2 separate regions of the Homo sapiens genome follow, and region 2 is linked to region 1. Evidence: fine-mapped QTL for protein levels in blood plasma. A gene starts in region 1. The other region holds a variant in brackets. All regions are shown on one strand. Distances are between the middles of the regions. Region 1 holds the start of MELTF (melanotransferrin). Region 2 overlaps MELTF (melanotransferrin).

The links. PIP is the posterior inclusion probability: the model's chance that the variant is causal. Protein levels are from antibody-based Olink assays in UK Biobank. Linkage for the fine-mapping came from a reference panel and not from the study's own genotypes, which makes the PIPs less certain.
Region 2: its variant is fine-mapped to the plasma level of the MELTF protein (UK Biobank, PIP above 0.99).

What each region holds. Positions count from the first base shown.
Region 1 is chr3:197,025,491-197,035,988 of GRCh38, forward strand. MELTF (melanotransferrin) reads right to left here and starts at 4,327. Exons shown (of 16, transcript NM_005929.6): 1 at 4,164-4,327; 2 at 2,266-2,420; 3 at 1,170-1,269. The coding sequence starts at 4,212. RefSeq lists silencers at 3,590-3,769, 3,960-4,009, 4,060-4,549 and enhancers at 4,083-4,719, 4,720-5,356, 5,744-6,943, 6,048-6,342.
Region 2 is chr3:197,013,773-197,024,270 of GRCh38, forward strand. It overlaps MELTF (melanotransferrin), which reads right to left. Exons shown (of 16, transcript NM_005929.6): 5 at 9,185-9,341; 6 at 7,632-7,699; 7 at 3,331-3,518; 8 at 2,417-2,597; 9 at 1,593-1,744. Among named protein-coding and RNA genes, the nearest start is that of MELTF, 11 kb to the right of the region's middle. RefSeq lists an enhancer at 8,962-9,011. The variant C/T (reference allele first, on the strand shown) is at 5,439.

The sequences.
Region 1 (10,498 bases):
TCTGTCCTGCCCTTCCCTTTTCCTCACAGCACCCCAACATGTGTCACTGTATTGTTTTGGGTGTGTTTATTTACTCTCTGCTCTGTGGGGGCAGGAAGGTCTCTTCGTTTACTGCTGCATGCTTATGACCAGCGGGTAGCAGGTGCTCAGTAGAGGTGTCGAGTTAATTAAAGAGGAAGAGGTGCGTGGGGCCTCGGAGGCAGAGCTGTTTCTGGCTGATGGGTGTGCAGGGTTGGACTGTGCCGTGTGTCATTTGATGGCCATTAATTCAACAAGGAACCAGCCAGTGCTTTCTCCAAGCGAGATGCTGTGTGGAGTTCCAGAGGGTAGACACAGGGGAAGACTGGACCCTCCTCTGAGGACTAACGAGACTGAGCAGGCAGAGGCTTGCAGAGGCCATGTGGGTGCGGGCAAGAGAGGCCCTGCTCCAGAGAGGGAGGGGCTCAGGGAGCACCTTGGAGGAGGTGACAGTTGCGCTGGACTGTGATGGAGGCCAGGCACCGGCCAAGCAGAGGTGGCGGGGGAGACACAGGAGCTGGCTGAGCTGGAGGCAGGTCCCATGTGTGATGCGGGGACTGGGCAAAGGAACTCACACTTTCCAGCACATACCACATGTCAGGTGGGCACACGGCCTGGCTCATTTAGTCTGGGTGACAGCGCAGGTGTTACTATCCCCATTATACAGTCTGGGAAGTGGAGGTTGGCCAAGGTCACAGAAGTCATGGGAAGGGGAAGGGCTGGGTCTGCTGAGCTGTGCCGCTGCCAGACAGCACCTCCCTACCCGGAGCCGGGCTTCTGAAGGGAGGCCCTGAGAGTGCAGGTGGCTCGGCATTAAGGACGCCTTGCTCACCCAAGGCAGTTACGCACACAGCACCGTGCCCGGCACCACGCCAGGCCCGGGACAGCCCGCAGTAAGAGCTGAGTGGGCACAGGCTAGGGGGCTGCTGGGCTCCCTGCGGGCAAGAGCAGACTTGGGGCAGCTCTCTGTGTCCCTGGAGCTCCTGTCCCTGGGGAATTTGAGAGAGCCTTAGGGCGTTCTTCTGGCTGGGACTCCAGGACTGCTCTGTGGACAGGGCTGATGGCCAGCTCAGGCCAGGCCCAGCAAGGGCAGCCTGGAGAGCTGACTTCCAGCGCAGGCTGTCCTCTCTCCTCCCACTGCACCCTCTTACCTTGATCGTACACTTCGCCCACCACCGGCTTCAGGCCGTGCTCCTTTCCCGCCTCATAGATGGCTCCTCCATCCAGAGTGATGGCGTCAGCCTCCTGGGCCTGCAAGGAAATGTGGCTCAGCCAAGCCTGGCCCAGCTGGCCTGCTCAGCAAAGAACTCGGGACACCTACCAGATGGCCTGGGGCCCCACCCCAAGCCCCAGAGGGCTGTGCTGTCCTTCTCATCTGTCCCAGGAGCCCAACCAGAGCCCAGGGCTCTCCCCCTTTCCCAGGCCAGGGATTCACCTTGTTTTCCTAATAATGTTAAAAAAAAAATACTAATCATTGATTTTGCAGGACTCAGATATCATAGTAAAAAAATCAGATAGCAGAAAACGGTGCGCAGTGACAAGTGAGTCTCCCTCGCTTTCTGTCCCTCCACCCTGCGCCTCTACTGCTACCCTAGGTTTTCTAGCTTTTTTTCTCTAAGGTGGTCTGTGCTTGGGGTTTCTGCCCTCACATGGAGCCTGACCCACAGCCTTGGCCCCAGTGTGGGCCTGTGATTGGATTAGGTCTTGGGGGCATATGGGGGGCAGAGCTGGAATGAAAAGCCAGCTTTCTTTGCACCCACCCAGGAGGGACGCCACTCTCTGGTGGTGCCTCGGAGGATTGTCAGTGTCATTTAGCAGTTCTCAGCAGACCTGCTCTCCTACCCCATGCTCACCCACCTGGGAGTCCAGCCCCTGCTCCTCCTTCCCCAGAAACCACACAAGCCCCATTCTGGAGAGCCCCATGGCAAGATGAGCAAGTAACCGCCTGCGGCCACTGAGGGGCCGCCACCATCTGGGCCCCCTTGGCAGGGGCCTTGTGGAAGGGAAGCCTCTCAGGTGCCTTTCTTTGCTGGCGCCCTCTGAGCAGCGGGTCCTCCTGAGGCTCCCACCTCCTGGCCTGGGCCCGGCGGGAGGCAAGCTGGCCTCGTGGCCAGGGAGACTCGGGAGATCCTATCGGCCGGGCCTGGCAGGGCGAGGTCGGCTCCTTTCCTGGTGAATGGGGCTGTTGTGTGCTCCCTCCTGAGTCACAGCCCTCTTGTCTGGCAGGGTGGAAGGGAGAGGACTCACCGCGATGAGCTGGACGCAGTGGTCGGCGGAGGTGCCCCGGACGCAGAGGAGGGAGGGCTGGATGCCCGCTTCCCGGAAGGCCTCGCTCATGTTGCCGCACTTGTGCTGCTCTGGGTCCGAGGTGGCGCACCACCGCACCTCCATGCCACCGAGCACTGCGGGCAGGGGACCGTGAGGCCCGGCTCCCCCGCCCTGCCCAGCCCCGGCCCACCATGGAGGGTGGCTCCAGCAGTTCTGTGTGAGCCCATTCGCCTGGACAGCCAGTCCTCTAGGGCAGCCCTGCCCTCCCACAGGGAGGCACTAGGCGCAGAGACAGGGGAAGGGCTGGTATTCCTGTGCTCAGGGCCTCTCTGACCAGGAGCACGGCTGCTGGCAAATGGAATGGCTCAGAACCCGGCCCTTTATGGAGGAATGGGAGGGTCTACAGGTCGCTTCTCAGCTACCCCCACCTGGTGGGAGCACTGGCTAGGGAGTCTCGGCAGGCCCTGGAAGTGGAAGCTTCTTCCCCTCTCCAGGCCTCCCGAAGAGGGTGCTCGTGTAGGTTCCCTCACCCAGCAGTGTCCCTGGGCCTTCCTCATGAACTGGGACGGGAGAGTGAGGTGAGGGGGCTGTGGGTGGGCTGCCCTCCAGGAGCCCTGTCCCCTCGGGGAGTGTCTGCGATGATGCTGGCTGCAAAGCCACCCTCGGTGGGCACAGTGCCAGGCCCTGCCAAGGGAAGACGGCAGGCACAGAGGGGAGGCTGAGGACCCATCAGGGTAGGTTCAAGCCTCTCTGAGCCTGCTTCATCTTCTGAGAGAGCAGATAAAAACCCCACCTTCTGTGTTGAAAGTAAACCCCCTTGTAGAGAGCCTGAGACACCCACATCCTCAGTGGACTTCTGCTTATGCCTCAGGATCTGACCGGGTCAGAGTCCCCGAGAGCTCCCAGGCTAGGGGCCCAGAGGAAGGGGTGCTGGAGCCCCTTGGGGCCGATGACTTTCAGGCCTGAGCTCCTCTGCCATTCACCCTGCCCCAGCCAGCACTGCCAGAGGCCTGTGCAGGAGGGAGGGAAACGCATGACTCCGCCCGAAACCAGGTCACCCTCCCGTGGCAGCCCCACCAGCCCAAGGGCCGAGACTGAAGCTTCCGCCACAGCCCTCCCCTCCCCACTCCTGGCGGAGGCCTGGGAAGTCGAACTGCCCTCCCCTCCGCAGCGCTCCAAGCCCCCCACCACCCAGGCGGGAAACTGCAAAGTTCAGACGGGGCGGGGGTGGCGGTGGCTTCATCGTTTGCATTGATGAGTGCGTCGCCTGCGGCCACAGCGGTGCCACGAACTCCATCCCCTCGGCGGTCGCCGCCCGCGATCCCCGCGAGCCGCTCCCCGAGGTCCCGCCTCCCGTCCCACCATCCCGGGCCCTGACTCCCCGGGGCGCCGACGCGAGGGGACCCGGCCTCCGTCTCCACCTCCATCCCTGCATGTGCCAGAAACCCCCGGGCGGACTCCCGCGCCTGCCGGTCAGTCCCTCTGAATCTTCTCCCGCGGGGGCTCGGGAGAAAGAGCTGCTCCGAGCCCCCAAAGTCTTCCTGAGTTCCTGCGCCCGTCGGGAGGGGCCGCCCTCCGGGAGCTCCTCTCCACACCCCGAGGCCTCCCCACCACGCCTCAGCCCGCGCTTCTCCTTGGAGCGTCGGAAGCCTCGGGTGTTCGAGGCCGCCTCCTCCAAGAAGCCTTCCAGACTTCCCCGTCTGCGCTTCAGTGCTAGTTCCCTCCGCCGTCCTCACTCGACCCCGAGCCCCTGCCTCCCCCGTCTCACTGCCCCGGAGCCGCAGGCTCAGGCACATTTCCAGCCCCGGGACCTGCTCAGCCGGGCCGCGGCGCCCCGGGACCCCCGCCCGCCTTTGGCTCTCACAGCGGGGCCTCACCGGTGCGCAGAGCCAGGAGCAGCCACAGAGCCCCGCTCGGACCCCGCATGGCGCCGTCGGGGCTGGCTGGGGCCGGGCTGGGGCTGGGTCCGGGTCCGAGGAGGTCCGCAGCAGCCGGGCTTCCTCCCTGCTCCCCCTCGCGCTGGCCCGAGCTCCTTAAGTGCGGCCGCGAGTTCCCGGGCGGAATCCACGCCCCTGGGGCGCAGGTCACCTCCCGCCGACCCCGGACCCCGCCCCTGGGCGGCCCCGGCGCGCCCCCTGCTGGAGGCCTCCCGCTCGGGCCCGGGCGCCGCTGCTCGGGGCTCTCGCCTCAGCCTCCTACCCCGCGTTCCAGGGTATCCTCCCCTCCTCGCGCCCTAGAAAGACTCCAGATACCGTGTCTAACTGGAGAGAGAAAAGCTCAGACGTGGAAGGAAGGAGAGGTCAGAATCCCAGAGTCGGGGCTGGAGGGCAGCTGGAGGATGATCTCATTCACGCAGCAGCTCCCTCCCAGCACAGCTGCACAGAGGATCTGGGATACGGGGGAGCCCAGGCCGAGCGCCCTGGCGAGGGGGGAGCCGGGCAGGGGCATCTCGGCCACAGCTGCACAGAGGATCTGGGATACGGGGGAGCCCAGGCCGAGCGCCCTGGCGAGGGGGGAGCCGGGCAGGGGCATCTCGGCCACAGCTGCACAGAGGATCTGGGATACGGGGGAGCCCAGGCCGAGCGCCCTGGCGAGGGGGGAGCCGGGCAGGGGCATCTCGGCCACAGCTGCACAGAGGATCTGGGATACGGGGGAGCCCAGGCCGAGCGCCCTGGCGAGGGGGGAGCCGGGCAGGGGCATCTCGGCCTAGCCGACTGCCTCTCCTCGGGCCTAGAGACGGGAGGTGACTTGCCCGAGTCAGGCATCCAGTCAGTGGCAGAGCCAGCTGATTGGAAGGTGAGAAGAGGACCAGAGAGGAATTGGAGGAAGCGGAAAAGGAGAAACAGGCGGAGAAGGGGAGGAAGAGAGTGAAGAAGGTGAGGGAGGAAAGGGTGGGTTGACCGTATTTCTAGGACAGTGGTTCTCAGTGTGGTCCCTAGGCCAGCAACGTGAGCATCACCCTGGAACTTGCTGGAAATGCAAGTGCTCAGGCCCCACCTCCGACCCACTGGATCGACAGCTCTGGGGGCGGGGCCCACAATCTGTTTTTATTTCGGGGCACAGCAAATGTTGAGAACCACTGTCGCAGGCGGGCAAAAGCGGCACTCCCCATGTGGTTGGGGATGCGGGGAATGAACTGAAGACATTGTTAGTCACCTGCCTCCATTTAGGCCTCACCTTTATGTCATCAGCCCCTCTGAGACTCAGAAATGATGTCTCTCTCTGACATGGGTAAGTACAACAGTGAGAGAGAAGACATCCCTCTGAGTTTGTCTGTCCTTGAGCTTGCTCTGCGCCCTGGGGAAGGAAGGCCTCCCTCCTATGGGGCCATGAAGCTACTGCTTATCACACACTGGATCAGGGGAAGGAACATGGGCTGGGCTTCAGGAGACTCGAGCTCTACTTTTTAAAAACCAGCGACTTACAGACCCTGGGCGAGTTCGTCGCCCTCTCTGGGCTTGTTCCCCACATGTAAAAGGTAGGTCATGATGGCCGTGACGTGCCATACTTTCCGTCTCCTGTCTGCTCTGGAGGACTTGTGCTGTGGAAGCTGTTTCTCCATCCCCCCAGATGGATCCCTTCTTCCTAGTTTGCACAAAGGTGCCGAATGGACTAGCAGGCAGCCTTGCTAGAGGGGCTGATGGCTTGTCCTAAGAAGATGGAATAAATAGAAGAGTCCTTAACAAGCCTCGTTCTCCTGACCACGAGGATAGAAAGGCTCAGTTGGCACACTCCAGGAGCCACCAGATGACTGGCAGGATCTGTTTGATGACTAAGTCCTTCCTTTGGCAAAACTCCACGTGACGCTGATAGGGAGTGAGAACAACCATAACCTAAGAGGTTTGCTGGGCTCTTTCACAATGAAGTTCTTCCCTTATCTCTTGGGTGTCATTCAGCTGTGACTCATCAGTGAACTTGCTGCCTCTGGGTTCTCAGGGATTCTACATCGGGCCCGTTGGCCCAGGGTTGGCATGAACGCGCATCACCTTTGTGGAATGGGGAAGTCTGCCTCAGCTTGAGCCAGGATTCTGCCATTTCTGGGGTCCGGACATACTTGGGTGTGCCAGAGAAATGGGTGGGATGTAATGAGAGAGTAATAAGCCAGTAGTTTAACCCACAAACAGCCTTCTGGAGGAGCAGAAGCTGAGGTTAGTTTGGTCCCCATTCTAGACTCATATTGAGATTAGAGGGAGAGCATACAGACTAAAGGAACTGGTTTCACTGACACTTCGATCAGATTCTGGGGCCTAAGCAGCTCTGCCTGAGTCTCCCTGACCCTACCCCATAATATGAAATAAAAAGAGCTCTTCTCCACTCTTGCCAAAGACACAGCTCTGGCTCTCCAAGGATTCAGAGTGCCCAGAAGCATTGAGCTTGCTTGTCAGGGAATCGAGGAACAGTACATCCCATGGAGGGAATACACTACAGGCAGCCTCAGAAAGTGGGGGCCTTTGACAGGAGACTGAGAAGGTCCATCAGCAGGTAGTGGCTAATGAGCCAGCAAAGGGTGAAATCCTTTACCCAAAACGAAGTAAAATATTGTACTTAGGAAAAAATATTTTTCAACAAATCATAATTTCTGTCTGTCTATTTCTATGGCCCGCAATGTCTTTAAGAACAAGCCAAATAGTTTTTATTCTGGGGAACCCTTGGAAGGCTGGTGTGCCCTGAGAAAGTTTGGGTGTGAGCACCTGCAGTAGTGTGATGTCAGAGGATGTTACGCTCTTGCTGACTGGTTGGGGTGTCAGCACCTGCAGTCGTGTGATGTCAGAAGATTTTACACTCTTGCTGACTGGTTGTGGTGTGAGCACCTGCAGTAGTGTGATGTCAGAGGATGTTACCCTCTTGCTGACTTGTTGGGGTGTGAGCACCTGAAGTAGTGTGATGTCAGAGGATGTTACACTCTTGCTGATGGGTTGGGGTGTGAGCACCTGCAGTCGTGTGATGTCAGAAGATTTTACACTCTTGCTGACTGGTTGGGGTGTCAGCACCTGCAGTAGTGTGATGTCAGAGGATGTTACACTCTTGCTGACTGGTTGGGACATGAGCACCTGCAGTAGTGTGATGTCAGAGGATGTTACACTCTTGCTGATGGGTTGGGTGTGAGCACCTGAAGTAGTGTGATGTCAGAAGATTTTACACTCTTGCTGACTGGTTGGGGTGTGAGCACCTGCAGTAGTGTGATGTCAGAGGATGTTACCTCTCTTGCTGACTGGTTGGGGTGTGAGCACCTGCAGTCGTGTGATGTCAGAAGATTTTACACTCTTGCTGACTGGTTGGGGTGTGAGCACCTGCAGTAGTGTGATGTCAGAGGATGTTACACTCTTGCTGACTGGTTACTGTGTGAGCACCTGCTGTAGTGTGATGTCAGAGGATGTTACACTCTTGCTGACGGGTTGGGGTGTCAGCATCTGCAGTAGTGTGATGTCAGAGGATGTTACCCTCTTGCTGACTTGTTGGGGTGTGAGCACCTGCAGTAGTGTGATGTCAGAGGATGTTACACTCTTGCTGATGGGTTGGGGTGTGAGCATCTGCAGTAGTGTGATGTCACAGGATGTTACGCTCTTGCTGACTGGTTGGGACGTTAGCACCTGCAGTAGTGTGATGTCACAGGATGTTACACTCTTGCTGACTGGTTGGGGTGTGAGCACCTGCAGTAGTGTGATGTCAGAGGATGTTACACTCTTGCTGACTGGTTTGGGTGTGAGCACCTGCAGTAGTGTGATGTCAGAGGATGTTACACTCTTGCTGACGGGTTGGCGTGTGAGCACCTGCAGTAGTGTGATGTCAGAGGATGTTACTCTCTTGCTGACTGGTTTGGGTGTGAGCACCTGCAGTAGTGTGATGTCAGAGGATGTTACACTCTTGCCAACTGGTTGGGGTGTGAGCATCTGCAGTAGTGTGATGTCAGAGGATGTTACACTCTTGCCAACTGGTTGGGGTGTGAGCATCTGCAGTAGTGTGATGTCAGAGGATGTTACTCTCTTGCTGACTGGTTACTGTGTGAGCACCTGCAGTAGTGTGATGTCAGAGGATGTTACACTCTTGCTGACTGGTTGGGTGTGAGCACCTGCAGTCGTGTGATGTCAGAAGATTTTACACTCTTGCTGACTGGTTGTGGTGTGAGCACCTGCAGTAGTGTGATGTCAGAGCATGTTACACTCTTGCTGACTGGTTGGGTGTGAGCACCTGCAGTCGTGTGATGTCAGAGGATGTTACACTCTTGCTGACTGGTTGGGGTGAGTACCTGCAGTAGTGTGATGTCAGAGGATGTTACACTCTTGCTGACTGGTTGGGACATGAGCACCTGCAGTAGTGTGATGTCAGAGGATGTTACGCTCTTGCTGGCTGGTTGGGGTGTGAGCACCTGCAGTGGTGTGATGTCAGAGGATGTTACTCTCCTGCTGACGGGATGGGATGTGAGCACCTGCAGTAGTGTGATGTCAGAGGATGTTACGCTCTTGCTGACTGGTTGGGGTGTGAGCACCTGCAGTAGTGTGATGTCAGAGGATGTTACTCTCTTGCTGACTGGTTGGGGTGTGAGCACCTGCAGTAGTGTGATGTCAGAGGATGTTACGCTCTTGCTGGCTGGTTGGGGTGTGAGCACCTGCAGTGGTGTGATGTCAGAGGATGTTACTCTCCTGCTGACGGGATGGGATGTGAGCACCTGCAGTAGTGTGATGTCAGAGGATGTTACGCTCTTGCTGACTGGTTGGGGTGTGAGCACCTGCAGTAGTGTGATGTCAGAGGATGTTACTCTCTTGCTGACTGGTTACTGTGTGAGCACCTGCTGTAGTGTGATGTCAGAGGATGTTACACTCTTGCTGACGGGTTGGGGTGTCAGCATCTGCAGTAGTGTGATGTCAGAGGATGTTACCCTCTTGCTGACTTGTTGGGGTGTGAGCACCTGCAGTAGTGTGATGTCAGAGGATGTTACACTCTTGCTGACTGGTTACTGTGTGAGCACCTGCAGTAGTGTGATGTCAGAGGATGTTACACTCTTGCTGACTGGTTACTTTGTGAGCACCTGCAGTAGTGTGATGTCAGAGGATGTTACGCTCTTGCTGACTGGTTACTGTGTGAGCACCTGCAGTAGTGTGATGTCAGAGGATGTTACACTCTTGCTGACGGGTTGTGGTGTGAGCACCTGCAGTAGTGTGATGTCAGAGGATGTTATGCTGTTGCTGACTGGTTACTGTGTGAGCACCTGCAGTAGTGTGATGTCAGAGGATGTTACGCTCTTGCCGACTGGTTGGGACGTTAGCACCTGCAGTAGTGTGATATCAAAGGGTGTTACACTTGCTGACTGCTTAATCTGAATTTGTATATTGAGAACAATGGCAGACATGTTGAGGAAGTTTTAGGAATAAAAGCTTTTTTTTTTTTTTTTTTTTTGCCTCTTTATAGGAAAGAATTTTTTTCTGTGAAGCATATGTAGGAGAAGTCCTGTCCATTTGGGCTGTGCCAAACTCTATGTCCAGGATTTTCAAAGGCAGAGTCTATGTTTGATCATTTCTGTGCTCATCACAGGGCCTTAAACACAGAGGATGATTTCTAAGTGTGAACTGTTATGTTTTAGGATGTTATTAACTATCATTACTGGTGTCTGATGCTGCTGAAGGGAAGAATGAGAAGAGCCACAGGATCTGGGGACTATGGTGGCCCCAAAGAGCTGTGTGAGCAGTTTCAATGGCATGGCCAGGGCTGAGGCTCAGGCAGGAAACTCAACTCCATGAGGGCAGGGATGGTGTCTTGTCTACCACCGATCCCAGTGTCTAGCATCAGGTCCGGAATATAATAGGATTCAATACATAATTATACTATTATAAATGAAGGGAAGAGTGAACAGAGTATCTCAAGATACTTGGCTAAGAAGGGAGAGGGGCTGTTTTCAGGGGGTTCAGCGTTGAGGGTCAGTTTTTACAGGAGAGATTTGATCAGAATGTGAAGAATCAGATCCAGACAAGCAGAGTGAGCAGGAAGAAAGGAAAACAAAGCTTCTTCCCTGGGGATGGGCGGGAGGAGGACGGGAAAGGTTCCAACTGAGTTGGACCTGCCATCAAATGTCAGTCTCTCAATGCTGAGCTCAGTTTATTATCAAACCACAAAAGCTTTCTTTTCCTGAAAACTTACTTGCAGTTCAGACTTTAATATGTAGAAGAGGATTATAAAGACTCAAAGATGAACTTTGGAGATATAGTTTTAAAGCCAT
Region 2 (10,498 bases), 12 kb before region 1:
GGAAATGCAAATCAAAGCCACAGTGAGGTATCAGCTCACCCCAGTTAGGGTGGCTGTTATCAAAAAGATAAAAAATAACAAATGCTAGTGAGGATGCAGAATAAAGGAAACTCTTACACACCGTTGCTGGGGATGTAAACCCGGACAGCCGCTATGGAAAACAGTACGGAAGTCCCTCCACAAACTACAAATCGAACTATTGAATACCATATGGTCCAGTAATCCCACCACTGGGAATCTGTCCAAAGGAAAGGCAATCAGCCTGTGGAAGGGATGCCCGCACCCCATGTTTATCGCAGCACTGGCCACAATAGCCAGGATGTGGAATCAACCCAGGTGTCCAACAACAGAGGATGGATAGAGAAAATGTCATTGGCATGCACCGTGGAATACTATTTAGCCATAAAAAAGAATGAAATCCTGTCACTGGCAGCAACACGGACGGAACTGGGGGACACCGTGTTATGTGAAATAAGCCAGGCACAGCAAGTTAAACACCATATGTTCCACTCATATGTGGAAGCTAAAAAAAGTTGATCTCACAGAAGTAAAAAGTAGAACAGAGGATGCTGCAGACTGGGAAGGGTAGGGGAAGGGAGGAATAGGGAGAGTTTTTTTTTTTTTTTTTTTTTTTGAGACAGTCTCTCTCTTGTCGCCCAGGCTGGAGTGCAATGGTGTGATCTCGGCTCCCTGCAACCTCCACCTCCCGGGTCCAAGCGATTCTCCTGCCTCAGCCTCCCAAGTAGTTGGGATTACAACTGTGTGCCACCATGCTCGGCTAATTTTTTTGTACTTTTAGTAGAAACAGAGTTTCACCATGTTGGCCAGGCTGGTCTTGAACTCCTAACCTCAAGTGATCCACCCACCTTGGCCTCCCAAAGTGCTGGGATTATAGGTGTGAGCCAATGCACCCAGCCAGGAGAGATAGGAGGAATAAGCTCCAGTGTTCTATAGACTGTAGGATGACTAGAGTTAACAATAATACATAGTTTCAAACAGGTAGGACGATATTGCATGTTCTCCACACGGAGAAATGAGCAATGTTTGAGATGATGGTATGTTAATTATTATCCTGCTCTGATCACCATGTATTCTATGTATCAAAACATCAGTATGTATCTCATGAATATGCACAATTATTATTTGTCTATTTAGAAAAATCAGGAAAAAAGAAAAAAAAAGTCGAACAATGATCCACGCCCACTCTCTATTGCACAAGGGAAGGCTGAGATTCAGAAAGGGGAAGGGGCTTGCCCCAGGCTACAGGGCGTCAGTGCCCAGCTGGGCCAGCGCTTCTTCTGCTCCTGGCACCCCCACTTAGTGAGGAGCTCCCAGGCTCTCCAGGGGACTCACCCCTATCTGCCTGTCCCCTGGGGTGGGTGCTGGCCCCTGCGGTCGCTCCTCCCCGCCTGTCTCTGTCCCCTGGGGTGGGTGCTGGCCCCTGCGGTCGCTCCTCCCCACCCGTCTCTGTGGGCTTGTTGCAGTAGACACTCTCCTCTTCCCCAGGCAGCAGGGGGTGTGGGTAGTAAGAACTGCCCAGGCACTGCCACCACCCGCCCACCTGGCCCACGCTGCACCTGCGTGACTCCCACCTGGATCCGCTCCATGCAGTGTTGGGGGGACTTGGCTGACACGCACTGGATCTCTGGCTTGAGCCGCTGCCGGCGGAAGGCCACGGCCATGTCTCCACACTTCTGGATCTCGGGAGTGGAGAGCACACACCAGCGCAGGTAGGGGGGCAGCCCTGGGGTGGGGCAAGCAAGCGGTCACTGCCAGGCCAGTACTGCCATGGAAGAGCATGGAGTCGGACCCAAGGGAAATTCTGGGCCTTTCTCCTGTCAGGTGTGTGGCTGGGATAAGTTATTTAACCATCGGATCCCACTTCCTCACACAGAAAAGGGGCAACTGTGAGGCCTGAGGAAGACCATGGCTGGCGTGCATGTAACTCAGTGTGTGGTACCCACTTCCCTGGCTGGAGGTGGAAGATACATGGGGCCAGGGGGCTAAAGGCAAGAAGCTCACTTGTAGACTACTGCAATAGTCCAGGCGAAAGATGGCACCTGCGCCAGGGCTGTAGCCATGGGGTAGAGGCGGGGAGTAGGAGCGAGAGGCTGTAGAAGAGCTGACAGGATGCCATGGCCGTGGATGGGGGGGCGAGGAGACCCTTCCCAAGACAGATTCTGATGGTCTGCATCCTCCCCCGCTGCGGCCAGGTGGGGCTTCCGAGGTACAACAGGCCATACAGTGGAAGAGATGCCTCCTCCCCAAAGCCCCAGGGGCAGAGGAATGGAAATGACAGGTTCCCGCAGAGGCCTCCCTGGTGAGCGTCTTCCCCCGGCCACTTTCCCAGAGAGCCTCGCCATGCCCGAGGTTGAGCTGGGCTGGAGCTGGCAGCAGTGGGGACAGGTGGACTTACGGTTGGGGTCACAGAGCAGACCCTTCATGGCGTGCAGGTACTCATGGCCCAGCCACGCCTCATAGGTCTGTGTGGCGATGGGCACAAGCTCCGAGGTAGAGTCTTTGAAGAGTAGATCCTTCTGGCCATAGGCCTCAGAGCTGAACATCTGGAAGCTGCTGCCCTCGTGGCTGAACAGACGCTGTGTGTCAAGGGGTGTGGTACAGGGTGGTGAGGGTGCTGACAGGCCATATCCTTCCCTCCCACTTTGGCCCCTACCTCCTTCTTCCCCGACCTCAGACCAGGCACCCACCCTGAGGGCCAGGTGAGGCCTCCCTCTTCTGCGGCGCCTCCCCTGATCTGCGGCCTCCTTCCCCTGGGCCCTGTCAGTTCTGGGTCTACTCTGAGTTCATTTGGCCTCCTCACACTCAGCTGTTTGGACACATGGCTGTGGCCAGGCATGGGACGGTCCTGAGGACACGCCGTGGGGCTGGTGGTAGCAGCCTGGATAGGGCAAAACTAACTGAGCCTGGGGCACCAGCAGTCAGAAGTCTATTGCTGTCACAAGCGGCGGTTTTAGCCAAACCTTATTCGCCACATGTAATTAATGGTGTGCTTTGAAAGGCGCTGGTTTTGTTACTTGGTTTATTTGCTCATATGTTTTGGTTTTAGCTCTCAGAGACACAAGTCTCAGGAGCTTCTTCTGAGGGTGCCTGAATCCCTGGGTCCCCCTCCTCTGGGCCCCCCTCTCCTGGCCAGCCCTCCTTCTGGCCAGCCAGCATAGTCGGTTCCTCACTCTGACCTGGCCCGATGCTGGGGTCCGTCCCAAGGACAGTCTCTGGGTCCTGCCCCTCCTGGTCCCACCCTGCTGAGCGACCACAAGGCCCGGCACCATCTAGGAAGCTGTGCAGGTGGTTGGGGGACCCTGAGCCCACCTGGCCTTCGTTGAGCAGCCGGAAGATGAGGCCCCCATCTGTGTCGGCCCGGACCACCACGGCGTGAGCAGGCACCCGGGCCAGATGGCACTGCCTCCACTCGGTGACATCGGCCCGGCTACCATCCCGGCACAGCAGCTCGAAGTCCTGTGACAGCAGGGCCTGGCCCCAGGAGGGAAGCGTCTTCCCTGGGAAGCAGGAAGCCTGGGCTGAGCCAGCTCCGAAAGGGGTTGGGGCGGGTGGCGGGGAAGGCCCAGGAGAGGGAATCTGAGGGGTGGCTGGGTGTCATGGACATGAGAACCCAGCATTCAGAAGGTGGCAGAGCTTGGTGGCCGCACCCAACTCCAGGTACCTACACAGACTCTATCTCGTTACTCTCATTTTCTAGCTCTCACCAATTTCTATTGCTAAAGTGAATTGGAGGTATCTGACAGTAATACAATACTTATAAATAACTATTCAAGATAAAAAAAGTAAGAAAATAAGAAAGGCTGGCCGGGCGTGGTGGCTCACGCCTGTAATCCCAGCACTTTGGGAGGCCGAGGTGGGCGGATCACGAGGTCAGGAGATCAAGACCATCCTGGCTAACACGGTGAAACCCCATCTCTACTAAAAATACAAAAAATTAGCTGGGCGTGGTGGCGGGCGCCTGTAATCCCAGCTACTGGGGAGGCTGAGGCAGGAGAATGGTGTGAACCTGGGAGGCGGAGCTTGCAGTGAGCCGAGATCACGCCACTGCACTCCAGCCTGGGCGACAGAGCGAAACTCTGTCTCAAAAAAAAAGAAAGGCTTTGGGTGAGACAGATGAATGTACCAAGAGTCTAGGATGAGCTTGCGGCTGCCATGAGGCACTGCGTTTGGCTCTGAGCAGGGGGCAGGGGGCAGGGCTCCCGGAGCAGGGGCCACGGTGGAAACAAACCCCGAAGGAATCTACCCACCCCAGGACTAGAGAGGACGGGGGATCTCCCATAACTCCAACTATTCATATTGCGATGGATTTCTTTCAAGTCCTTTTTTCTATTTTATTTCCTGTCTTTTGACCTCACCCCCCCTTTTTCTTTTTGAGACGGAGTCTGGCCCTTTCGCCCAGGCTGGAGTGCAGTGGCACGATCTCGGCTCACTGCAACCTCCACCTTCCGGGTTCACGCCATTCTCCTGCCTCAGCCTCCCGAGTAGCTGGGACCACAGGTGCCCGCCACCACGCCCGGCTAATTTTTTGTATTTTTTTTTATTAGAGATGGGGTTTTACTGTGTTAGCCAGGATGGTCTTGATCTCCTGACCTCGTGATCCACCCACCTCGGCCTCCCAAAGTGCTGGGATTACAGGCGTGAGCCTCCACACCTGGCCTTTTTTCTCTTTTTGAGATGGAGTCTTACTCTGTCGCTCAGGCTGGAGTGCAGTGGCATGATCTTGGCTCACTGCAACCTCCGCCTCCCAGGTTCAAGTTATTCTTCTGCCTCAGCCTCCCGAGTAGCTCAGATTACAGGTGTGCACCAAGATGCCTGGCTAATTTTTGTATTTTTCCTAGAGATGGGGTTTCACCATGTTGGCCAGGCCGGTCTTGAACCCCTGACCTCATGATCTGCCAGCCTCGGCCTCCCAAAGTGCTGGGATTACAGGCGTGAGGCACCGTGCCCAGCCTCCTTTTGACCGCTTTTAACCTGGTTAAGGACATAGTTGACAGGCAATTTTGCATCCTATTTGGTAGAGTATTTTTCCACAGTATTGGAAACTTTCCATAAGTTCATTTGTTTCTCGATAGAAAAGAAAATTTGCAAGAGTAACTATTAACACCAAACAGGGATATTGAGAAGACGAATATTAAGGACTATAATTAAACCACAGATGGTCCCACATAACAATATTTTTATGACCTTAAGACAAGGAGGAAAAAAACCTCTACAAGGAAATAGGAAGAAAAAAGATAATTTGTATGGTCATGAAAGCTTTCACTGCAAAGCTATTTTAAAACAAAACCAAACACCCGCACCAGAGTGATCGTTTAGGAAAACTCCCTAAAGGTCATTGTTAATGGCCACATGGTAGTTTACAGCACTGTTAATGATTCAGTGTAGTCCTACCCCCGCTTCCCAACTTTCCTGTTTTT[C/T]GGCGGCTGCAAAACCTTTGGTTAGAGCTCTGGGGCATCATTTGCCTTCCCACAGACAAAGGCATCATTTAGGTGCTTCCATCAGCCACTCCCGCTTCTCCTCAGCCAAGAACAATGAAAGTCCTGTCACTTCCCTGCTTTAGACATTTATGCCACTTCTACCCCTTGGCTCTTACCAATCTTTCTGTATAAAGTCACTTAAAAAATGACTCCCTTAGATTGCCTCAGATTACCATCAACACTTTGAAAAAGCTGCCAGGTGCACGCCTGTCATCCCAGCTACTCAGGAGGCTGAGATGCGAGGATCAGTTGAGGCTGGGGGTTTGAGACCAGCCTGGGCAACATGGTGAGACCCCCATCTCAAAAAAAACCCCAAGTTTGAAAGAGCTGATTCTTAACCCAACATATCCCTACTCTTTGCCCGTTTTCCAAATTCTCCTTTGTCAGACTCGTCCTGGGGCCTGTGAACGGGAGCCCATTTCCAGGCTTGCCCAGCACTAGAGCGCATCGTCCTACGTGCTTCCTCGTGTGCAGGGCACTCGCCTTCTTCCTCCTCAGATCTGGTCCATGTTTGCCTTCGTGATGGACTTTCTGATTTAAAAGGCAATGGTTAATAACAGCAAAGAATGACAATGATTTAAAAAAAAAACCCAATCATCAGACGTCCTGGGAGACGCAAAACTGCAGACAGAACGGTGTGTTTGCTGCTTGCTGGCAGGTGCGGGGAGATAACTAGCAGGGGCCTGAGGAACTCCTGGGCTGAAGGGTCTGCCCCATCAAGATCTCGATTGTGGTGGTGGTTATACAACTGCATGTATTTGGCAAAACTCATAGAACTATCCTTCAAAAAGAACAAATTTTGCTGCATGTAAATTATATCTCAATTTAAAAAAAGAAACAATCTTCAGGCAAATCTAAATTGAGGGACATTCTATAAAATAACCGGCCTGATGCTTCAAAATGCCAATGTCATAAAAACAAAGACTGAGAAACTGTTCCAAGATAAAGGAAAGTAAAGAGATCTAACAACTAAACCCCATGCGTGGTAAGAGTTTAGGTCCTGGTCTGCAAGAAATGGGCATGAAGGACAGAATTGGGACGGTGAGTGAATCTGCAATATCGGCTATAGACTGGATAACAGGATTGTATCAAAGTTGCGTGTCCTGATTTGGATTACTGTGGCTAGGTACACACCTCCTTGTCTTAGGAGATACATACCAAAGTATTCAAGGGGTATGACATAGGCAAATGTACTCTCAAATGGGTCAGAACACACACGCACACACACACACACACACAATAAAATGTGGGAAAATGCTAAACAGTTAGAATTTGGGTGAAGAATAGAAGGGAGCTCTTTGAGTTATTCTTGTAAGTTTTCCAAAGCTCAGTTCTTTCAAAATTAAAAAACTTAAATGACATGATGGCTCAATATATAACACCAGTCTTTGTGGGTTTTTTTTTTGTTGTTGTTTTTTAGACAGAGTCTCGCTCTGTCACCAGGCTGGAGTGCAGTGGTGTGATCTCGGCTCACTGCAATCTCTGCCTCCTGGGTTCAAGCAATTCCCCTGCCTCAGCCTCCCAAGTAGCTGGGATTTGAGGCACCCACCACCACGCTCGGCTAGTTTTTTGTATTTTAGCAGAGATAGGATTTCACCATGTTGGCCAGGATGGTCTCTTCTCCTGACCTCGTGATCCGCCCACCTCGGCCTCCCAAAGTGCTGGGATTACAGGCATGAGCCACCGTGCCCAGCCTCAACACCAAACTATATCTTAAACCTTCCCAGGGATGAGGGACAAATTCTCCAGGCAAGAGGAGAAAAATGCCAGGAAGGGCTGGTAGGTGAGATCCAGTGCAGGGGTTTGCAAATTGCTTAAAAAATCAGACCCTCATCTTCAGGTGGAACCAGAACCCAATGCCATATTCAAATCAAAGCAGAGCAGAGCTGCTCGCTGGCCCCCTTCTCCTGCCCTGTGGGCAGTGGGCACTCCACTGGTGACACCTGCCTCTGCTCTTTTGCAGCTGGGAGTGCTGAGGCTCGGAGACTGTGGGACTTGTCCAAGGTCACCCAGAGACTCAGAGCAGCACTGCACTAGGGCGTTTGATCCCAACTCTGCCATCTAGGGTCCCTGCCCCAAGCCGGCCTGGCCTGACTCCCTGCTCCTCTGGGCCCGTGCCCCTCCCCCACTCACCATCCGTGTTCTCCAGTACCGTGCTGTGCTTCACAAAAGCCACGTCCCCTGCCCCTTCCGCCAGGCACCTGCGGAGGAGAAGCTGTGGGTCTGGATGGGCTGAGCCCCTGCCCCTGCCCATCTTCCACCTCTGGAGGCCTGGCTTGGGCTGTAGGGGTGGCCATGATGGGCATGGGCTTTCCAGTTGTGTGGTCTGGGTTCCAGCTCCCTGGCTGGTCGGCTGTGTGCCTTTGCCGAGTTGTGGCCCCTTCCTAGCCCCTATCATCTGTAAAGCGGGGGTGGGAAAGTAGCTCCCACAGGGCTGCTCTGAGGATGAGAGGCTCCTTATAATCCAGTATGGACCCTCTCCATCTTAGCTCAGGCCTGTAGGGAGCAGGCACTCCCAGGGCAGCTGCTATTATAATATCAGCAGCCTTGACTCTCAGGGCGTCGGTTTTCTGTGTGTTTGTTTTCGTTGTTTTGTTTTTAGAGATAGGGTCTCACTGTGTCGCCCAGGCTGGAGTGCAGTGGCGCAATCATAGCTCATGGCAGCTTTGACCTCTTGGGCTCAAGTGATCATCCTGCCTCTGCCTCCAAAGTAGCTGGGGTGACAGGTGTGTGCCACCATGCTGGGCTAATTTTCAGGGTGTTTTGAAGAGCATTCTACCCTGAGGCAGGGGATTGGACTAGAAGGCCTTTTCATGCCATGCCGCAGAATCCTCAGTGGAAGGGACCATTGACTTTTACACGATCTGCTGATGTCACTGCCCAGTGTTGGAGGCAGGTCAGACCTCCTGGGCAAAGGGTCTGCTTGGGTCCCCACGGGCAGAAAATGCACAGGGATTAGAGCAGATCGGGGCGGGCGACATCAGGAGAGGGCTCTGAGGCTCCAAGAGAGCCAGAGAGAATGTGTGCATGGCCAAGGACACGGGGAGTGGAGGGGCAAGGCTGTCCCGCTCAGGGGTGCTGAGGACTGTTTCTTCTCTCTAAGCCGAAAACCGCATCCAGTCAGATAACATCTGGAGTGTGGGGCACCAGCAGGCTTCCCTGCTCCAGGTGGAAACGTGAGGTAGCTAGAGGGGCCCGAGAAGCTTCCTTTCCAATCCTGCTGAGCACATTTCCTCCTCTGCAGGCAGATGGAATTGGACCACGAGCTGTTAGAGTCTCCTGCATCCACGGAAGGGTTACCCAAGGTGCCAGCCGCAACCAGCAGCAGAGACGGGCCGGCCCCAGGTGTCCAGACACACTCCCCTGACCCCGCTCCCTGCTGGTCTGAGAATGGGGACATGGGAGTGGCCAAAAGGCTGTTTTTTCCATTTTCTTCTCTTGGAGCCCTCACCTCACTAAATATACCAAACACGTTGATTTCATGAGCAAATCCGGTTTGGCATATTCCAGCTGGATGTTTTTAAACTAACCAGGGCACAGAACTATATAAAGGGTGCTTTGATGAGACGCAGCCAACATGCCACTTCCCCCTCCACGGCCCTCTCTGGGCAAAGGTGTTTTTCCCCAGCATTTGTGGCCTCAGCTCCTCCCTGCCCTCGGCCCCTCCCTGCCCCCACTCCGCTCACCGGAAGGCCCCGCTGTAGTCGTAGTATCTCTCCAGGGGGCTCTTGTCACACACCCCTTCCCCAGAGCTGTCACCCCTGCAGAGGCGACAGAGGGACTCAGAGTAACTGGTCTCTCCTGCCCCCGGGACGCAGCTGCCCCCAAAATAGTCGCTGACAGCTGTGGGAAGGAGGTAGAGAGGTCACTCAGCAGAACTTTCTTCAGAGCCAAGCCAAGCCCCCAGGGTCAGCAGGGGGCCCGGGCTCTCATCTGGACTCTGCTGAGAATGGTTCCACCTTCCAGCTTCAGTCTGAGCAAAGCTGGGGAGTGGACCCGATCAGTGACCCCCAAACCGGGTCCACCAAGGCAGCAGACAGCACTGGGAGCGACTGTCATTTAAAAATGGTTCGGGGGAACTAAACATTTCCTCCTAAATGACCACGTGGGATAACTCAGTATCAGCCAGATGCTCTTCTCACTGTGGGTTTCATTTCCAGCTCAGCCAACTGTGACTGATGACAGAGGGGAAATAAAGAATTATTGAAGATCACTGATGGGTAGACAACCCTTCTCACGGCACAGGGAGGGAGGCACACGCCCGGCGGCCAGCCTCACGGGGGACGAGGTCAGGGTCTGCCGCCCTGCATGGTTCTTCCGGCCCTGCCAGCACCAAAACCCACAAGTATTTATCCTGTGCCGCGCGAGGAGGCCCTGCTGCTGGCACCTGAGCCAGTCGGGCCACGCTCATCGCCAGCCAGACTGAGCTTTTCCAGAGTAAGCCCTCTTCCTGGTTTTTTTTTTGTGACCTCCCAGAGGAGTAGATATTTAATAAATATGCCAAGTGCCTGGTGAGCCACTCACACCTGGCCACCAGCTGAGAGGGTGAGGCTTCCAGGCTCTCGCGGGTTTACACGGCTGGTTGGGCTGATGAGCCACTTGGGAGCTTTCTGGGTGCAAGTCGGCACCTCGTTTGGGTCCTGAAAAAATAGCATTTCTGGTCCTGTAAAGCCGAGGACACATTTCTAGACACAGTGACCTGCGCCCGGTCTATACTGGTGGGAAGCACTCCTGGGAGATTCACTGCTTCCCACTCATGGGCTGGGCCTGTGCCTGGCTGTGCCATGTGGGACACCACGATGCGTGAGCAAGAATCGCGCCCCACAGGGTCCAAGCAAGCAGGAAGTCAAGCGGCGGCGCCGGCGGCAGAGTGGAGGCGGGGGAGGCACGGGGCGGGCGGGGGCTGCTGCGCCTTCCAGGAATGAAGAATGGTGGCGAGGCCGGAGGGAGGCTACCCAGTGAAGGGACGAGCATGGGCCAAGGAAAGGAGGGGGAGGCCT